4 linked regions of the Homo sapiens genome follow. The protein of the gene in region 4 purifies or fractionates together with the protein of the main gene of each other region. This does not show direct contact. Each region holds a gene or a part of one and is shown on either strand. Other genes may lie near its edges.

What was found.
Region 1: the proteins of MGMT (region 4) and H2BW2 purify together in Homo sapiens (affinity purification with mass spectrometry, with the first as the bait; one study listed by BioGRID). This does not show direct contact.
Region 2: the proteins of MGMT (region 4) and CDKL5 purify together in Homo sapiens (affinity purification with mass spectrometry, with the first as the bait; one study listed by BioGRID). This does not show direct contact.
Region 3: the proteins of MGMT (region 4) and MYO7A purify together in Homo sapiens (affinity purification with mass spectrometry, with the first as the bait; one study listed by BioGRID). This does not show direct contact.

Annotation. Positions count from the first base shown.
Region 1 is NC_000023.11:104,037,765-104,042,788, forward strand, and holds H2BW2 (histone H2B type F-M), read left to right. Parts: upstream 1-2,191; 5' UTR 2,192-2,212; coding exon of another isoform or gene 2,213-2,230; coding exon 2,231-2,640; intron 2,641-3,063; coding exon 3,064-3,100; 3' UTR 3,101-3,122; intron 3,123-3,323; 3' UTR 3,324-3,342; exon of another isoform or gene 3,343-4,347; 3' UTR 4,348-4,690; downstream 4,691-5,024. UniProt on the Homo sapiens protein: Core component of nucleosome. Nucleosomes wrap and compact DNA into chromatin, limiting DNA accessibility to the cellular machineries which require DNA as a template.
Region 2 is NC_000023.11:18,623,664-18,628,140, forward strand, and holds part of CDKL5 (cyclin-dependent kinase-like 5), read left to right. Parts: intron 1-1,464; coding exon 1,465-1,584; intron 1,585-4,477. UniProt on the Homo sapiens protein: Mediates phosphorylation of MECP2. May regulate ciliogenesis.
Region 3 is NC_000011.10:77,130,302-77,134,778, forward strand, and holds part of MYO7A (unconventional myosin-VIIa), read left to right. Parts: intron 1-287; 5' UTR 288-333; coding exon 334-351; intron 352-4,477. UniProt on the Homo sapiens protein: Myosins are actin-based motor molecules with ATPase activity. Unconventional myosins serve in intracellular movements. Their highly divergent tails bind to membranous compartments, which are then moved relative to actin filaments.
Region 4 is NC_000010.11:129,464,918-129,470,784, forward strand, and holds the start of MGMT (methylated-DNA--protein-cysteine methyltransferase), read left to right. Parts: upstream 1-2,323; 5' UTR 2,324-2,379; intron 2,380-5,867. UniProt on the Homo sapiens protein: Involved in the cellular defense against the biological effects of O6-methylguanine (O6-MeG) and O4-methylthymine (O4-MeT) in DNA. Repairs the methylated nucleobase in DNA by stoichiometrically transferring the methyl group to a cysteine residue in the enzyme.

The DNA.
Region 1 (5,024 bases), on a different chromosome or scaffold from region 4:
GTAAATTTGGACATGTTTCAGAGTGAAAGGGGATGCTGTTAAGAATTACTAAGGGACAACAGGTGAAATCAGGACACATGGTCACTATACTAGGGAAAATGTCTGGGATAAGGAAAAAGAGGAAATAGCCACCCTTTACAGCTTCTTCTGTGCCCCCACTCACTTCCACACTCCTTCCCCCTTATTGCAGAGTGACAGTCTAATGAAAGGGGAAGACTATTATATTGCATCAAGAATCAGGGCCAATCATATTTTGGAGAAAGCTTTGTACTGAAGTAAGTGTTTTTATTGTCTCAAATTACCATAGTGGGTTAATTTTGTCAGACACATGTGCCTGAAAGTGAAAAAGCCCCACAACAATCAAATTGAAAAAAAAAGGAGAGTCGTCCTAGTTTTTTTAATTGGTCACTATCATTTTATTAAACTTGTGGACAAATGTAAACCTAAAAGAGCCAGTCTTTCCAGATGGATCCCAGTGACTGAGCCTAAATCTAAACTAGAGCCAAGCAAGCTGCCACGTGCAGACTAGAGCTCACACATGTACTAGGAATTCCCCAAAAGCCCATACCTCTATCTAACTCTGCAACTTTCAGAGGTCACCTGAACCAACCAGCCAGAGCTCACCTGCCCCTGCCAATCAGGGCTCAGTCGTGTTGACCAATCAGAGATCAACTGAGTCAACCAATCAGAACTAATTTTGAATCCTTTATTTGCATGAATGGACTGTACTGAGAACCTCGATGGGAACTTTCTCTATAAAAGCCATATCCTCTTTTAGTTCTCTGGAACTTCGCCTTTGTTTTACACTGAAGTCTGCCCCTCCCTGGTGTGCAAGCTGTTCACAGGAATAGTCTCTTTCCTCCAAATTCCTTTTCAGAGAACTTGCCTTCATAATATGATGCCAGAGGTAGGAGACATGCTTACTCACAGCTTTGGATTCAAATCTTTAATTCACCACAATTACAATAAAACGAAAAATCAAACAAAGAAATAAAAAGTGGACAAAAACCTCAAACTAATTTTCTCCTCAATTTACAAGGCTGAACAGCTAGGAGGGCATTTATTGGTTCAGGACTGGTCACCTGCTCACATTCTGAGCCAGTGGCTCAGGCCCAGGGCTGAAGACACTTCATTAGTTGAGCCAGTGGAGAGTGGGGTTTGGGTGCTCTCATTGGATACTTCCATCGTAAGTGATGCATACTCACAGGACATTAAGCTTTGCATTAAAAAAGATTGTAGACTGGGAAACAATAGAATTAGACAAATGTGAATGAGTTAGAGTCCTTACTTTATTTTCTCGGAAGCTTGAAAGGGGTGCTGTTCATTGAATTTTTGATTTAGCTATTTCTGCACTGTGGGTTTTTGTTATGTATTTAAATGAATTGTATAATAGAGGTAATGTTGAAAAAAGATTATATGAGGTCTGCTTGTTCCATTAGTAATGTTTGCCCCGTTTGATGCTTCTAAATTGTTATTTACAGCAGTAAACTGTTTCCCTTTGTGTGTGTGTGTGTGTGTGTGTGTGTGTGTGTAATGTGATTTAATTTATAATATTTCAGGTATGAGTTTTGTAACCAAGTTTATAAATGTTCTCAGATTTTTGTAGTGTGCATCCTTCAATGGGTATCAACATCATGTTTTATTTTCTTGAAATAAGTTTTCTCTGCCAGGCACAATAGCTCATGCCTGTAATCCCAGCAGCTTGGGAGGCCAAGGCAGGAGAATCACTGGAGTCCAGGAGTTGGGACCAGCCTGAGGAAACATAAAGAAACCATGTTTCTCACACACACACACATACACACACACAAAATACAAAACTTAGCCAGGTGTGGTGGTACGCGCCTCTACTCCCAGCTACTTGGGAGGCTGAAGAGGGAGCATCACTTGAAACCAGGAGGCAGGGGTTGCAGTGAGCTGAGACCGCACCACTGCACTGCAGGTGTGCCACAGAGCAAGACTCTGTGTACCTTTGTCTGAGGTAGGCAACCCGGCCACTTAGGCGGGCAGACGCCCTCTGTGATTGGCTGACATGATTCCAAGCAACAGGATCATCCGATCACCTTCAATGGAGGGAAGATTGCTGAGAGGCGCCCTTGGTGACACTTCATCCAATCAGATGTCGAGTTGGAATGTGACGTAGAGCCATGCGACCATACCAAAGTGCCCCCCACTTCCCTGGTCCCCAACCGTCACTCTCTGTTCTTGCTATCTAATGGCCGCTGCTTCCGCCATGGCTGAGGCTTCCTCTGAGACAACCTCGGAGGAAGGCCAGAGCATCCAGGAGCCCAAAGAGGCCAACTCCACGAAGGCCCAGAAGCAGAAGAGGCGAGGGTGCCGAGGCTCCCGCAGGCGCCACGCCAACCGCCGTGGGGACAGCTTCGGGGACAGCTTCACCCCCTATTTCCCCCGGGTGCTGAAGCAGGTTCACCAGGGCCTCAGCCTTTCCCAGGAGGCCGTGAGTGTCATGGATTCTATGATCCATGACATATTGGACCGCATCGCCACCGAGGCTGGTCAGCTGGCCCATTACACCAAGCGCGTGACCATCACCTCCCGGGACATCCAGATGGCCGTGCGACTGCTGCTGCCGGGGAAGATGGGCAAGCTCGCCGAGGCCCAGGGCACGAATGCCGCCCTCAGGTACACCAAAAGCAAGTGAGCTGTCTCAGGAGCGCCTGAGCACCTGGGAAACCCAAAGGCTCTATTCAGAACCACCGCCCGTGGCCCTATAGGCCAGTGGCCCGCCAAGGGGGGGACCCCACCGGAGGTTGGTGTGGGTGGCACCGTTCCAGCTTGGGGGGCATGTGCCGTGTGGCCTCCTGCGGTTTTTCAAGCATTTTTCCCACAGTGCAAAACACTGTCAACTCCAATATATCTGTAGTGCAATATGCTCCAAGGAAAAGTAGGGGGTGTTTCCGTAATCGTGTTTCGTGTCCTCAGTTTCCCAAATGGCCGTTTTTCTTAGTTATCTTTCTAGGTTATCTTTATGATGATGTTATCAATGTACTGATGTTTACCTTTTTCACTCTCATTCTCCTACGACTGGATGGTGGGATTTTCCAGAACTTCATTATGTGCGATATGGCAACAGAGAAAGTGAATATGCTGATACAAGAAGCAAGGTAACCCTCCTAAATGTGTTCAGCATCTCTCTCATCATGAATCCATGTAAATAAGCAAACGAGGCCCAGTTACAGTATATATATGGCTAAATAAAATTTTCAAGAATCCATTCGTTTTCCAGCTTCCCCGACTCTGAGACCACTATTGTAATTCATTCTCTTTTTGTACTGACAGTAATTTTTTCATTTCTTTTTGAACAGAAACCTTCCTTACTTCCAGGTGTGTGTCAGTAGGATTACGGAGTGTCCACGGAAACAGCTCATGCCCTAGTGTACAGTGGTACAGCCAATGAGTGACCTGCAGTCTATGAGCAACAGTCATTGACCCAATGTGGGGGGAGTGACCCAAGCTGAACCCACAGCAGCCTTCCTGTTATATTCAACCTGGTGTTTAAAGGAACGGCAGTGTGATTCTTTACCTGATGTTTTTGTTTGCATTGCTTGTAATCATGATCTTTTAGGGATATGAATCCAAAGCTAAGATTAGAATATGTACCTTGTCCCTAACATCAAGTTATACAGAACATTGGCAACCATTAGTAGAAGTCAGATAAGGCTTATTTCCTCAAAAGATTAGCATATTTATATTCATGTTAATATTAATATAGGCTACCTTTCATTGTGCTCTCTTCTGGGTCCCAAGTCTTGGCATTTTAAGCATTTTTTTCTATAAGTGTATTGCTGAATTTCAGAGCAGGTGCTCACTTTCCCATTGCTTTCCTTTTCCATTGATTTCCAGTCGCCCGAGTATGTGGACAAGAGAACATACTCTGGGACTGCAACCCACAGGAATTTATTATGTTGTGCCTTGAAGCTCAACATGTGGCCATTTTTGTTAAATGTTTCCCGTAAATTTTGAAACATCTCATAAACAACCCTTCTCCTTCATATGTAGAAACCAGTAAAGGATGGCACTCTCAGTCAAACCATGAAACAAAAGCTGGATAAATGACAAAAATCAAAATTTTCTTGAGCCCATCAGAAGTGGGAAAGAACCACCCCAGAGGGCCCAACACATAGCCACATAGATTATTCCACCATTTAAAGAGGACCCCTTGGTCAAGAGGGAAACAGGGTCAGGGCAAGATGGTAGCCAGAGCTTCCCTGAGTAGTGCAGATGGGAAGAGGGGAAGGTCACCTCCAGAGCTCCACTTGGGATCCATAGAGAAATGATATAGAACCAAGAAGTCCACTCATTGGGATCTGTTACTTTCTGTTTTTCCAGATTATTAGAAAAATATTACAGAAATAGCTGAAGAGAAATGTTATGAAAATAGTTGAAGTTGTGCTTATTGCACGAGGAGACCAAGAAAAACCCCACAAAATCAGCTGCAAGTAAATCCTTCTGGATGGTGCCACCAAATGTTCCTACAAGTCCGGAACAACCCTTGCCAAACCAAAGACCCTTGCCAGAACCCTGCTTCTTCCCAGAGACAGAGCTGTGTACCTGACAAAACACCACATCTCACTCAGTGACTTATTTCTCATTATGCTAATTGTTTTGCTGTAAAATGCCAATGTTTCTGTGAATTAAGACATACGAATAAATTTCTGAAGTTACCCTTGCATATGTGTGTAATTAGACAAGTCCTTTTGAGAAACCAAATCCACTGAGATATTTTACCTTGGAATATGTGTTTTCCCTTTGTAAATTCAGAAATCAAAGAGGGCCATTAGTAAAACAGGGTTAACAATGAAATCTGATTTGGTTGTGGGGAGTGAAGAGTGAGGGGGCAAGGGGACTGATGCCGGTGAATTACAGGAAGAAAGAGGAAAGGGGTGGATTGATGTGAAGATCGGAGGAGGAAGCTCACACATTTGATATGGTATTTCTTTGGGTCATTGAGCAGAAGCGGAACCTATTAGGCAATCATGATGTCATGCTGTGACTTAAAGAAACGC
Region 2 (4,477 bases), on a different chromosome or scaffold from region 4:
TATACTTAGAAGAAGTTTGTGCTTGTCTTGAATTTGCATTATTGACATCTTCACATCCAGGTGAGAATTGGCACAGAAGCTCTAGATGCACAGCACCGAGATTCTTTCAGTGACTGTTAATATTTAGCAATTTGAGGGCTTCCAAGGGCTAGTAGTTTCAATAAGAGCACTTTTTTTTTTTTTTGCAATTAGTTTATTTGTATCTTATATTGCAGACAGATTCCACCAACGGGGAGAATCCAAGCATCAAGAAATCCCTCTTTCCTCTTTTTAATTCAAAGAATCATTTAAAGCATAGTTCTTCTTTGAAAAAGCTTCCTGTAGTCACTCCACCCATGGTACCCGTTTTTATGTATGGTAGCCCTGAAAACTGCTCCAGTAAACTTGTTTTACTGATGACAACAGCATGTCTTATTTTCATGAGGTCATATTCTCTTTATGCTAGTTAAGTACGTGAGCCAGTTCCATAAATTCACTGGGATATAAATTCATTGCCATTCTTCTGAATCAGTTAAGAAAGTTGAAGCACAAAGTCTATTAAGCAAACAAACTAGTGAAAGGCTAGTTTGTCATGTCTGATTAGCCAGTTATGGGCAGATAACATTTATAAAAGCCTGTATTTTATGTAAGGAATTCTGTTAACATTTACAGTTAACAAATATCTTTGCATTTGACTCACAGAGTTTGTTAACACTTGATTGGCAATTTGTCTTTTTGAAGCCAAGTTGAATTGACCAAATTGAATGAGCTAACAGGCTCCATGAAAAAACAGCTTGTTTCCTTGTCTGGCTTGAGCTTTTGCTGGTCAGTTTAAAACCAGGGCTTTTGCTTGGCATTTGACATTACTCTTCTGTGTTCACCAAAACTGGTGAATAGAGCAATTGCATTCATCTGGAATTTGTGGCACAGATTTCCAGCATTTCTCTAGTACATAATGATAGATCCAGATATATCAGACAGTGGTTTGGGAATATGATCCAAACCATACTTTCTCACTTTGCTATCCTTGAAAGCCTACCAGACTTCTTTGGCACTACCATATACAGTGTTTGGATCATTTTCCCAGCAGGAAAAAATTTCTGTTTTATTGAACTGGTTCACAACCTAACTGCAATATGGAATGAGGATACGACAGCAATTCCTGGTACAGCCCTATTTAACTGCTCTCTCTTACAGCGACTAAAACTAACAGCATGGGAATGCTTTAAGGGTTGAGGTTTAACAAAGCTGCATGACATCTGCCAATTTTTCCTAATGCAGGGAAAATTATTAAGAGGGCAGAAGAATTTAACTAGCATCACTTGCATTGTGAACATTGGGAGAGATTGGGGTTCTATTTTTACTGGGTTATTTGAGTTTTGGTTTGGTTTGCTTTTTAGTTTGGTTCTCCTCTTGGGTGTGGTTGCATATCTTAATTAGGCTTCTCAGTGTGCTTATTGAATGCTTGTCCATATTTTGCTCTAGGTACCCAATTCCGACAGCCCTGATCTTCTGACGTTGCAGAAATCCATTCATTCTGCTAGCACTCCAAGCAGCAGACCAAAGGAGTGGCGCCCCGAGAAGATCTCAGATCTGCAGACCCAAGTGAGTGGATCCTGCACCACTGCTAGACTCTCCAACTCTCCAGTAACTGTCCTGAGGAGCGGGGAGGGCATGCTAGAGAAAACTTAGCCTCTCAATGTTACAGTAAGGCTGAGCACCTCCTCAAAATAGACCCTCAGTTATAGCCAGATGCATCTCGTGAGCCAGGATGAATCTTGCTTCAGTGACCCATGTTCTACTGGGAAAGATGCAAGCTTCTGTTAGCCTTCACCTAGCTGGAGGCAACTGAAGATGTAGTCCCAGCCCATAAATACAGCCCAGGAAAGAGCTGAGCTGTGTTAAAGAACCATAATTCATGGTAAAAAATGAGGCATGCCATAACATTTCAGGCAGGATGAACACAGATGGTGGGAAGATTAAGGTTTCATTAAAAATAATAGCATACAAATTGAAAGACAGGTATGATAAGTTTTCTTGAAAGAATATTTCAACTCCTGAAATCCATACTGTTTTTGACAGGAAACAGGCAAACAGTTGCATTAGGAACTACATATTAGACTGTATTATATAGTCACATTTATCTTCCGTAATGGAGGAATAAGCAGAAACTGAATCAGTAAATTTTTCAGGTATCTGAGGTTTATCTCCTTTAAACAACTATTTTGGTTGGAAATTTTGTAATGTATCTTTTCAGTATCCCATAATGAGCATTTTGTTTTTTGATATTGAGTATTTTATAAATCCTTTATTCTTCTGCACTATAATTTCTGACAATCCTCCCGAGCTTTTGAGGCTATAGGATTACTTGTGTCTGTGATTTCTTGTGTCACAGATTTCTGTGATTGGGAGAGCGGACTACTGTTTTTTTTTTTTTTTTTGAGACAGGGCCTCAATCCCATTGCCCAGGCTAGGGTGCAATGGCACAAACTCGGTTCACTGCATCCTTAACCTCCCTGTGCTCAGGCAATCCTCCCACCTCAGCCTCCCAAGTAGCTGTGACTATAGGTGTGCACCACCACACCTGGCTAATTTTTCGAATTTTTGGTAGAGACGGGGTTTTGCCATGTTGCCCAGGCTGGTCTCGAACTCCTGGGCTCAAGCAAGCCACCTGCCTCTGCCTCCCAAAGTGCTGGGATTACAGGGATGAGCCACCATGCCCAGCCTCTGTTTACTCTTTTTAACTGTAAGCTGTTGCATAGAACTGCTGGCAGAAGTTCCCCATATTCCCATTCTATTTGCCCCAGCCATTTATATTTTCTGCTTCTAACATAATATAAGCTGGGGATGGTGGAAGCATAGAGAACCAGATATCCAAGTTTATTGGATATGTATGCAAACTAAAGAGACAAGCCTCTGAGTGAGGGCCTGCTTCTCTATTCCCAATTTCAAAACAAAACAAAAAGAATAGAGAGCTTTAGAACTTTCTTTGTGAAACCATTTCTTTTACCAAGAAGCCCTCTCTCTCTCTCTCTCTCTCTCTCTCTCTCTCTCTCTCTCTCTCTCTCTCTCTCTCTCTCTCCCCCCTCTCTCCCCCCCCCTCCCCCCCCTTCTCTCTTTCTTTCTGGCAGGGTCTTACTCAATCACTCAGGCTGGAGTGCAGTGGCAAGATTATGGCTCACTGCAGCCTTGACCTCCTGGGCTCAAGCCATTCTCCCATCTCAGCCTCCAGAGTAACTGGAACTACAGGCACACGCCACCATACATGGCCAGTTTTTTAATTTTTTTATAGAGACGGGGTCTCGCCTTGTTGCCCAGGCTAGAAGCTCTTTTCAAATAACTTTATAGCTCTTGCTGAATGCAGCTTATTGTAATTGCTTGATAGTTACATGTGGTCAAGGCTATAAAAATCACCAGGAGTCTCATCGTGTTATACCAATTTAATTATTTTTAAAAAGCCACTTTTGAGCACTTAGAGTGTACAGTGTGCTCTGCTACTTCCTGTAGGGAGCACAAAGCTTTCTTGGGAAGACTTTGAAATGATGATGGAGAATACTTTCCCCTGAAACAATATCTACTTGAGTCAGTTCTGAAGCCATTTACCTTGGGTTTCAGTGCCTAGTTCCTTCAAATCTTGTAATGTTCCTTGAGTTCGTCAACATTTTATTCAAACTTTACTGAGCCCTTAAATGCATGTCCCTTATACCATGACATTTACAGCAAAGGTACTCTGAGAATTGGCCCCAGAGGGGTCCCAAGGCTAGGGTTGTAGCCCAAGTGGCCAAATCCAGCAGTCATGATTGGCTGTGAATTTCCAAGTGCTTTCCATGTCTCTTCCGAGATCGAGGAAGAGGAGATTGAGCCATCTTTCATCGTTCAGGAGCATGAGGCTCAGGAATTGTCCAGTGAGCAGACGGCTCTGAGGCTCCTCCCCTCTGCCCTGAAGTCAGTCTCCCTCCTTGATGCAGCACCTGGGGATGTCTAGCTGCACAGTAGACAGACAGGCAGGGCGGACCACTGTGAGCCCATGTTAGGAATTGAAGGCCTCCTGTGAATTAATTCTTTAGATAGTTCTGATGGGGTTTTGCATATTTCTTTGTGCTTTGCATTTTCAATGCCCAAATGTTACCCTCCCCCTTTCAAAAAAAAAGCAAAAAAAAAAAAAAAAAAGTGCAGCAAGGGAACATTTGAATTTTGCAATATCGAGAGAGGGAAATTGGGGAGATAAGAACGAAAAGGGCTATACGACTTGTAGTTGAGTACATTGCTAACTAAAACATTCCATATTTTCAGCTTCTCTTGCTGCTAGATATGGCTGTGTACCTAAGTTCTAGCTGGTAAAATATAAGTGGAAGCATTTTGTGGAGCCTTTGGGAAGTCTTCTCAAAACAGAGAAACATACACCTTTTGCTTTCTCCTTCCTGCTGGTTGAAGCATGAGATCCCCTGATTAGAGATAGGATGCAACCAGGTAGATGAGCCTGGGCCTTTGATTGGCT
Region 3 (4,477 bases), on a different chromosome or scaffold from region 4:
TAGGTCCCTGGTGGGGCCAGACTTGCTACTTTCTAGGAGCCCTTTGGGAATCTCTGAATGACAGTGGCTGAGAGAAGAATTCAGCTGCTCTGGGCAGTGGTGCTGGTGACAGTGGCTGAGGCTCAGGTCACACAGGCTGGGCAGTGGTCAGAGGGAGAGAAGCCAAGGAGGGTTCCCTTGAGGGAGGAGGAGCTGGGGCTTTGGGAGGAGCCCAGGTGACCCCAGCCAGGCTCAAGGCTTCCAGGGCTGGCCTGCCCAGAAGCATGACATGGTCTCTCTCCCTGCAGAACTGTGCCTGGCCCAGTGGGCAGCAGGAGCTCCTGACTTGGGACCATGGTGATTCTTCAGCAGGTCAGTGTTCCCACCTCTTTGGGTGGCCTGTCCTCCCCAGGCCATATCCCCTCATCCATATGCTTACCCGTGGGACACCCTCCCCAGGGTGTTCTCTTGGAAAATTCCTGCCTAGGCTTCCAAACCCAGCCCTCCAGGCTGAGGCCTAGTCTGAAACCTGTTCCCTCTGCTGTGCCAGCTGGGGTTTCCTTCTCTCACTGGCTCACCCCACTGGGCAGAAATGAGTTTATTTACACACATCTCTGGATCCCAGGCAGTGGAACAGCATGTGCAAAGGCCCAGGTGTGGGAAGGTCCCTGGGGAAGAGGAGAGGAGGTTGGCAAGGCTCCCAAAGCCAGGCCAGGAAGGGCCCTGAGCCCAACTTATTCTTAGGGCCTTGGGGAGCAGTGACTGGAGGGCGGGGGGTGACAAGGCTTGAGCTGGAGCCCCCTGGGATTTTATGGGAAGAAGCAGAGGTGCTGGCCCGAGCTGAGTCCTCCAGCCCCCCTTCCTACTGAGGGCCACAGTGGCCTCTGACCCTCAGCCCTTCCCCGTGATCAGTCTGAGGCTCTAATGAGCTCCTGGCCTCCAGAGCAGGAGCCAGGAATGTGGGCCCTGAGCCAGGTGGGCCTGGCAGCAGGCCGTAGGGCTTGTGGGGCTGTGCATTATGGGGGCTTGGCCAGCAGCTTCTCGGTCTCCAGGGTCACCAGAGGCCAATGGCTCAGCCTTGCCTGGCCACCCTGAGGCTGCACGGACCAGCATGTTTGCATATGAGTGCGTGCGCGTGTGTGTGTCTGTGTGTGTGAGTGAGAGGCAGGCTTCAGGGCAGCATCAGGACAGACATTCTTCTATCCCAGGGGCTGGAGGAGACCCCCTTTAGAGCCCCTTGGCCTGAGAGCCTGTTCAAACGCCCATTAGAGATGGGCAGGATCTAGGAGAGGAAAAGTCCATTCGCTGAGTGTTTGCTGTGTGCCAGGGCCTGGGCCCCCATAGCCCTCCAGGGGCGTCCTCCCTCAGGGGGCCTCTGAGGCAGGCCTCTGGCTGATGGGACCTCCTCACCACCCCCTCCTCTCCTGCCCCTCTGAACGCTGACCCACCTCCAGCTGTGGGTGGCCTCTGTTGGGAGCAAGTGTCTTGTAGGTGAATGCCTGTTCTGCCTGCCCTCAAGCAGGAAGTACACTCAGCTCCTTCCTTGGTCCTGAAGAAAGCCCCAGCCCTGGGGAACCGGCCAGCTCTGCAGTTGCACAGGCCGGGCCTAATGGGCTCCAGCCCAGGCTTTGCTATTGATGAGTGGGAGGGCCTTGGGCACGTTACTCAGCCTTCCTGAGCCTCAGTTTCCTCATATGTAAAATGAAGATTAAAAGCCTCTTTTCCCACAGCTGCCGATGAGAGGCTAAAATGCCATGTGGAGCTCCATGAAAATGCTTCTTCCTTCCTCTGCTTCCCTGGTCTGCCCTCTCCTCCTCTCTTCCTGCCACATCCTTCCCGGTCCTGAAAGGTCCACGGAGTGCTTGGCTTCCCCTCTTGCCTGGCTGACTTCTGCTCAGGCTTCAGTGTAGCCTCTACTTCCTTCGGGAGGCTTCCCTGCTCTGCAAACCCCAGGGCCTGGTCCACAGTCCTCCTCCTTTCTCTGCCTACCTGGGGCTTCCTGATGAGCCCTGGACATGAGGGACAGCCTTCATCCCATTTCCCGTGGATCTTTCAGGATAGGGAAGGAACTGGCAGGAAGAGAGGAGGAGAGAGGCAGTCCAGGGAAGCAGATGAAGGAAGAAGCATTTTCATGGAGTCCCAAATGGCATTTTAGCTTCACAATGGCAGCTGTGGGAAAACAGGGGTTTTGTTTGTTTGTTTGTTTGTTTGTGTGTGTGTTTGTTTTGAGACAGAGTCTTGCTTTGTCACCAGGCTGAAGTGCTATGGCATGATTTTGGCTCACTGCAACCTTCGACTCCCTGGTTCAAGCAATTCTCCTGCCTCAGCCTCCTGAGTAGCTGGGATTACAGGCACCCGTCACCACGTCCAACTAATTTTTGTATTTTTAATAAAGACGGGGTTTCACCATGTTGGCCAGGATGGTCTTGATCTCCTGACCTCGTGATCCGCCCACCTCGGCCTCCCAAAGTACTGGGATTACAGGCGTGAGCCACCGCACCAGGTGGATAGAGGTTTTTAATCTGCATTTTGCATATGATGAAACAGGCTCAGGAAGGCTGAGTAATGTGCCCAAGGCCCTCTTACTCAACAGCAAAGCACAAGATGGAGCCCACTGGGCCCGGCCTGTGGAACTGCAGAGCGGGTCGGCTCCCGGGGCTCGGGTTCTTTTTAGGACCAAGGAAGCAGCTGAAGCATACTTCCTGCTTGAAGGCAGGAGGAGCAGGCATTCACCTACTATTCCCTGCCCTGGAGGAGTTCCCAGACCTATGTGGGGAGACAGCTTAGAAACCTAGGAAAGGCACTGTGACAGTGAGTCTCCAGGGGGCACGGGGATGAGAGGGCACCTGGGAATGGGAGAGCCTTCTGCCCTCCCTGGGAGAGGGTGGACAGGGAAGGCCATGAGACAGCTGCAGCAGCCTCTCATGAACATACAGGGACTGAGGTCTCTGGAAGAAGGACTAGCCCAGCTGACTAGTGGCGCACCTGTGTGGCACACCTGACTCACATCTTTAAGGACCACAAGGAGGGCTTTTGTGCTTCAGTATGTCATGATTCCCAGCTTCATGGTGGTGCCAGGGTAGGGACTCTGTGTACTTGGCCCAGATTTGTGGGCAGAGGGAGGTTTGAAGATAAATTTGTGGGCTGTTGATAACAGTTGGATTGATGCTTTTAGTAAAATATAATGTCCTTCTTTGTTTCTTGTAATGATTTTGACTTAACATCTATGTCTGATAGTGTAGTCATCTCAACTGTCTTTTGGTTACTATTTGCATGGAATACTATTTGCATGAAATCCTTCTACTTTTAACCTATTTGTGTCTTTGGATCTAAAGTGGATCTCTTGTAAGCAGCATATAGTTAGATCATGTGGTTGGTTTTTGTTTTGTTTTGTTTTTATCCATTCTGCCAGTCTTTACCTTTTGGTTGGAGAGTTTAATCTATTTACACATGAAGTAATTACTGTTAAGGAAGGACCTCTGCCATTTTGCTATGTTTTCTGTATGTCTTATATCTTTTCCTCCTCAATTCCTCATTACTGCTCTTTTGTGTTTAATTGACATTTTTTTCTAAAGTACTGTTTTGATTCTCATTTACTCTTCTGTGTATTTTAAAAGTTTTTTCCTCAATGATTATTCTTAGGTTTACAAATAACATCTTTTTTTTGAGATGGAGTTTCACTCTTGTAGCCCATGCTGGAGTGCAATGACACAATCTCGGCCCACTGCAACCTCTGCCTCCTGGGTTCAAGCAATTCTCCTGCCTCAGCCTCCCAAGTAGCTGGGATTACAAGCGTGCACCACCATACCTGGCTAATTTTTTTTATTTTTAGTAGAGACAGGGTTTCACCATGCTGGTCAGGCTGGTCTCAAACTCCTGACCTAAAGTGATCTGCCTGCCTCAGCCTCCCAAACTGCTGGGATTACAGGTGTTAGCCACTGCATCTGGCCTACAAATAACATCTTAAATCTGCATCAATATAGTTTAAGGCCAAATTAGCTTCAATAATAAATAAAAATTATGTTCCTTTATAGTTCTATCTCTCCCCCTTTATGTTATTTATTGTCCAAATTGCATCTTTATACATTGTGTGCCAGTTAACATAGATTTATCATTATGTTATACATTTGTCTTTTAAATCACACAGAAAAGAAAGTAGTTACAGACCAAAAATACAACATTTTTTTTTTTAAAGAGATGGAGTCTTACTGTGTTGCCCAAGCTGGTGTGCAGATGCTATTCACAAGTGCAATTGTGGTATACTACAGCTTTGAACTCCTGGGCTCAAGCAGCCCTCCTGCCTCAGCCTCCTAAGTGGCTGGGAGTACAGGCGCCTATCACTGTGCCTGGTTAAATATGACTTTTCTATTTATCTATGTAAGTGCCCTTACCAGTGTTCTTTAATTTTTTTGTATGGCTTTGCATCACTGTCTACTGTACTCTATTTTTTTTTCCAATTTTGTATTTTTTAAAATACATATAACAACATATACCACTT
Region 4 (5,867 bases):
TTTCAGTACAGCCAGGGCCAGGTCCACACATCTCCCTGGGAAGCCAGCACTTTCTCTCGTGGACCGCCTCCCCATTCCCACAGGGCCCTCCTAAAGGGCCTTTGGATGACCACATTGGCCTTTCTTTCCTAGGGTGGGGAATTAGAGATGCTAAGACTGGCCAGTCTCTTTTTCTTAAGAGTTTAGGGATTCGTCTTAAAATATTATTCAGATAAACGTATGAGTCATGTGTTAACTGCAAAACTACTTAACAGCACACTTGTTAGAATATCAGTCGGCACTCTGATTCCATTTCGGCATTGTTTTTCCTTTGGTTCTATTAAGATCCCGGTTCTAACTGGGTCCTGGTAGTAACAGGCTGTAAGTGGCCAGGTGTATAGCATTATTTCTTAGTAGTGTGGTGTGGTGCTGGTGGTTTATTTTCCCTATGCACACATGCCCTAATATGGAAGGATAGTTTGTACACACGTAGGGTACGTTATCATGAGACTCCTTTACAGAGTATGAAACTGAGGATTAGAGAAGTCAGACGAGTTTCCCGAAGTCTTATAGAAGGCTAATGGAAAAAACCAGAGCCAAGGGCAAACATGTTTCATCTGTCCTTCCACATTAGTTTAAATGTGAATGGCTGCTTGGAACACAGTGTTGAGAAGGATTCCGAGGCTGTGTCCAGGTTCAGTGGGGAAAAAGTGCCTTGATTTGACCATTATATCGTGTACTCAGGGCCTAGTTTATTTCCCACAAGCAGCTATTTAAAACATGTCTCATCCAAGGCAGGGTCGGGGTGGGGAACCTCAGAGGATCAATGATGCAGCCTGTATTGTCACCAGGGCTCATCCCAAAGCAAATCCTGCTGAAGTTCTCCTCTGAACAACCCTTATCACTCATGCTAATATGTTGGATCCTGCAAGTCACAAATACGAAGGTATGAGCATTGGCCGAATCCCAACAGGGAAACTTCACCGGGAAGGTGAAGACCCCTTTCCATTAAGATAACAAACAGAACCTAGAAGGCCCGTAGCATGGTGGCTTAGAACATGTGGGCCTTGGATGGGATCCTGCCAAGGGGTGTGTGACCTCTCCGAAGCCTCCAGGGATGATACTACTCCCTGGGGTGCTTATGCCAACCACGTTAGAGACAATGGTTTCTGTACCCATTGCCTGGGGCTGCCATAATAAAGTGCCACACACTGAGTGGCTTAAAACAACAGAAACCTATTGTCTCACACTTCCGGGGGCCAGAAGTTTGAAACCCAGGTGTGTTAGGATCCTGCTCCCTCTGAAGGCTCCAGGGAAGAGTGTCCTCTGCTCCCTCCGAAGGCTCCAGGGAAGGGTCTGTCCTCTTAGGCTTCTGGTGGCTTGCAGGTGCAGCCCTCCAATCCTCCTCCCCAAGCGGCCTTCTGCCTATAAGGACACGAGTCATACTGGATGAGGGGCCCACTAATTGATGGCTTCTGTAAAGTCCCCATCTCCAAATAAGGTCACATTGTGAGGTACTGGGAGTTAGGACTCCAACATAGCTTCTCTGGTGGACACAATTCAACTCCTAATAACGTCCACACAACCCCAAGCAGGGCCTGGCACCCTGTGTGCTCTCTGGAGAGCGGCTGAGTCAGGCTCTGGCAGTGTCTAGGCCATCGGTGACTGCAGCCCCTGGACGGCATCGCCCACCACAGGCCCTGGAGGCTGCCCCCACGGCCCCCTGACAGGGTCTCTGCTGGTCTGGGGGTCCCTGACTAGGGGAGCGGCACCAGGAGGGGAGAGACTCGCGCTCCGGGCTCAGCGTAGCCGCCCCGAGCAGGACCGGGATTCTCACTAAGCGGGCGCCGTCCTACGACCCCCGCGCGCTTTCAGGACCACTCGGGCACGTGGCAGGTCGCTTGCACGCCCGCGGACTATCCCTGTGACAGGAAAAGGTACGGGCCATTTGGCAAACTAAGGCACAGAGCCTCAGGCGGAAGCTGGGAAGGCGCCGCCCGGCTTGTACCGGCCGAAGGGCCATCCGGGTCAGGCGCACAGGGCAGCGGCGCTGCCGGAGGACCAGGGCCGGCGTGCCGGCGTCCAGCGAGGATGCGCAGACTGCCTCAGGCCCGGCGCCGCCGCACAGGGCATGCGCCGACCCGGTCGGGCGGGAACACCCCGCCCCTCCCGGGCTCCGCCCCAGCTCCGCCCCCGCGCGCCCCGGCCCCGCCCCCGCGCGCTCTCTTGCTTTTCTCAGGTCCTCGGCTCCGCCCCGCTCTAGACCCCGCCCCACGCCGCCATCCCCGTGCCCCTCGGCCCCGCCCCCGCGCCCCGGATATGCTGGGACAGCCCGCGCCCCTAGAACGCTTTGCGTCCCGACGCCCGCAGGTCCTCGCGGTGCGCACCGTTTGCGACTTGGTGAGTGTCTGGGTCGCCTCGCTCCCGGAAGAGTGCGGAGCTCTCCCTCGGGACGGTGGCAGCCTCGAGTGGTCCTGCAGGCGCCCTCACTTCGCCGTCGGGTGTGGGGCCGCCCTGACCCCCACCCATCCCGGGCGAGCTCCAGGTGCGCCCCAAGTGCCTCCCAGGTGTTGCCCAGCCTTTCCCCGGGCCTGGGGTTCCTGGACTAGGCTGCGCTGCAGTGACTGTGGACTGGCGTGTGGCGGGGGTCGTGGCAGCCCCTGCCTTACCTCTAGGTGCCAGCCCCAGGCCCGGGCCCCGGGTTCTTCCTACCCTTCCATGCTGCCAGCTTTCCCTCCGCCAGCTGCTCCAGGAAGCTTCCAGAAGCCCCTGCGCGGGCCTTGGCTTGCAGCAACCCTTTAGCATACTTAGGCAGAGTCCCATATTTCCTTCCTGCTGGAGGCCAAGTTCTAGGGGCCTTCTGGTTACTATGGCTGGTGTTTGTGTACATCATACCCTAACTGTATTCATCAACACTTAGAGTAAGCAAGGCTCGCTGGAGAGCCACACACACTGGGCACCGTAATGTCGGTTATAACACCGCAGAGGAGTTCTGAACTATGTATTTCGCACTCCTGGGTTCATCATCTCCTGAAATCTCAGGGTGGTGTTTGCTCTCAGTTGCTTCAGCTGAGTAGCTGGCTTTCTGTCCTGGAAAGCAGACTTTGTACATGTGTGTGCAACCTATGCCTGCTGAGATCATCATCAGACAGGGAAGCGGCTTGGTCCAGAGAGCTGTTCTCAGTAGAATGTTAAGCACAGAGAGCTGAGAATTAGACTGGTTATTTACATAGACATCCAAATAGAAACCTATAGAGTATCTGTTAAGTCAGGCTCTCCCGTCATCTCCCCCATCCCTGGGCAGGTGTCTAGGAGATGGTTTTGTTATTTTCAGGGCCCTCTCAATGGCTAAAACACTCTGGGAGATGAACAAGATTTTAAAAACCCAAAGCTTAGCGCACCTGGTGGGTGGGGGTGTGAAAACTTTGAAGGAAACCGCGTCAAGAGCCTGGCTGATTGTTAATATCACGTTAACTCAGAGGGCCAGGATACTTGCCCAGACCCGGAGTCTGCCTGCAAGTAGCAGAGGAGAGCTGGCCTTGCTCTGCCGCGTGTCTTTCTTCCTGGGCCCTCTGTCTCGGGTTGGAATTTGAATAGTGGAGTAGTGTCTGCCACAGTCAGGGGCCTGGATGAAGTAGACCACCAGTACGGAGCTATACTCAGGTACTTTTCAATGTATATATCTTCATTAAAAAAAAAAAATCTGGGCCAGGCACAGTGGGTCACGCCTGTAATCTCAGCACTTTGGGAGGCCGAGGTGGGTGGATCACCTGAAGTCAGGAGTTTGAGACCAGCCTGGCCAACATGGTGAAACCCAGTTTCTACTAAAAACACAAAAATTATCCAGGCGTGGTGGTGCATGCTGGTAATCCCAGTTACTTGGGAGACTGAGGCAGGAGAATTGCTTGAACCTGGGAGGCGGAGGTTGCAGTGAGCCGAGATTGCGCCATTGCACTCCAACCTGGGCGACGAGAGTGAAACTGTCCTGAAGGGGAAACAAAAAAATCTGTATCAAAATAAGGATTTAACTAATAGTATTAGGCACTACTTTAAAAAGGCTTTGCTGTTAGTAAGGTTGAAAGAAATAGAGCCCTAGGTATACATTGGGTAGCACCTTGTTCAGCTGCTCAGATTCTTGAACCTTGTTGAGGTCTTACTTTGATATCACCTGGGCCTTACTTTTCGTTGTTTGGGTTTCCTCCCCAGGTGTCTCAATCAGGGCCTCCTCTGTCCTTTTGCAGGGAAGAAGGGGGTAGGAAGGGCCTGAAAAAGAACTTGCCTTCCCCATTGCCCCCTCAGAGTTTGTTCCTCTCCAGTCCTCTTCCCACCCTTTCTTAGGACACCAAAACCCTGACTCTTTCAGTATTTTATAATAAAATAAAGTTACTAAATTGTCTGTTCTGTTTTGCAGAGGACACACATTTAGGAGCCAGTGATTCAGACCTTCCATTTTTCTTTTTGGTGCTAATGCTCTTTTCAGTATATTCTCTTTGATAGAAAAAAAATGGAGGCAAAACTGAATTTTCTGCATTATCTTTTCCTTTAGCATTATTCTTGTTTCTGCACTTCATTCTGACCCCCTTCCCCAGCATAAAGTTCCATGTCCAGATCCACTTGCCCTGAGATTTTTGACTTCCGTTTGGGACTCTAGTCCCTCCAGGGGACACATTGAGCCTCCCAGACCCTGCAGGGCCCTGTGCTCATTCGGCTCTTGGGCTGTTGCTACGGTCCTTCCTGACCCTCTGTTTCCTGGGACAAGTAGTTTTTAATGCAGCTACTTTCTGAAAGAGCTGGGGTCTTACCGCAGAATATTATTTTATTATTTTTAGAGACAAGGTCTTGGTCTTTCGCCCAGGCTGGAGTGCAGTGGTGAGATCATAGCTCCCTGCAGCCTCAAGCTCCTGGGCTCAAGCGAACCTCCTGCTTTGACCTCCCAAGTACCAGGGACTACAGGTGTGCGCCACCATACCTGGCTAATTGTTGTTGTTGTTGTTTTTAGAGGCCAGGGTCTCCGTATGTTGCCTAGGGTGGTCTCGAACTCCTGGACTCAAGTGATCTTCCCTCCTAGGCCTCCCAAAGTGCTGGAATTATAGGCATGAGCCACCATGCCTGGCCTCGCAGGATATTATTTAAACGAAACCTGAAGGATTTAAAATCAGAGAAGACACATAAACCATCACCTGACTGTGGGGTGAGAGTGGTCTTTATATAGACACTCATGATGCACAAGCCAGCCCTTCGCCCCACTCTTGTTTTGAAGTGAAAGGATTTATATGGGAGGGAGGAGGTTTGAGCTGTGCAGGAGGGTCCTTGGTTGGCATGAGGATTTTGTGAACCTACGCTGTTAGCTCTGCAGGCCTGTCTTGGACATAGGTAAGTAGAAGTTGGAGACCTTGTGTTGTGGACCAAATGTTGCAAGATGTGTGTTCTGTGGCTTTTCATTAACTGCTGCATATCTGCTGGTTGGTGGACATAGTCTAGTTTTCTTTTGACTTAAAAAAATTAACAGTACAGCTTATATCGGAGGGCTGCATAGTTTGGGGGAAACTAATGAATATAGTATGGAATGTAATGAATGACTGACTTCTTCATAGAGCTATTGAAGTGATTTATGAAGAGGAAGAAATCATTTTTGTGACTTTGTTGATCTTTGAAGTATTAGAGTGGCTTTGGCAGGTGTGGATCACCCGGAAAGGAATCAAACACTGAGTCCTGCCAAGGTGCTCGGTCCCGGCAGCAAAGCCAGTCCTCAGCAGCCTGCGCTCCCGAAGCTCCTCCAGCTAAGTAACTGAATAGGCCGCCCTGGGAGCTGCCCATGCGGATGCTCTGAATGGTGAAACTTGGTTTTGACACCACAAGTTGTTTTCAGTTAAATCAGTGGCTCAGCA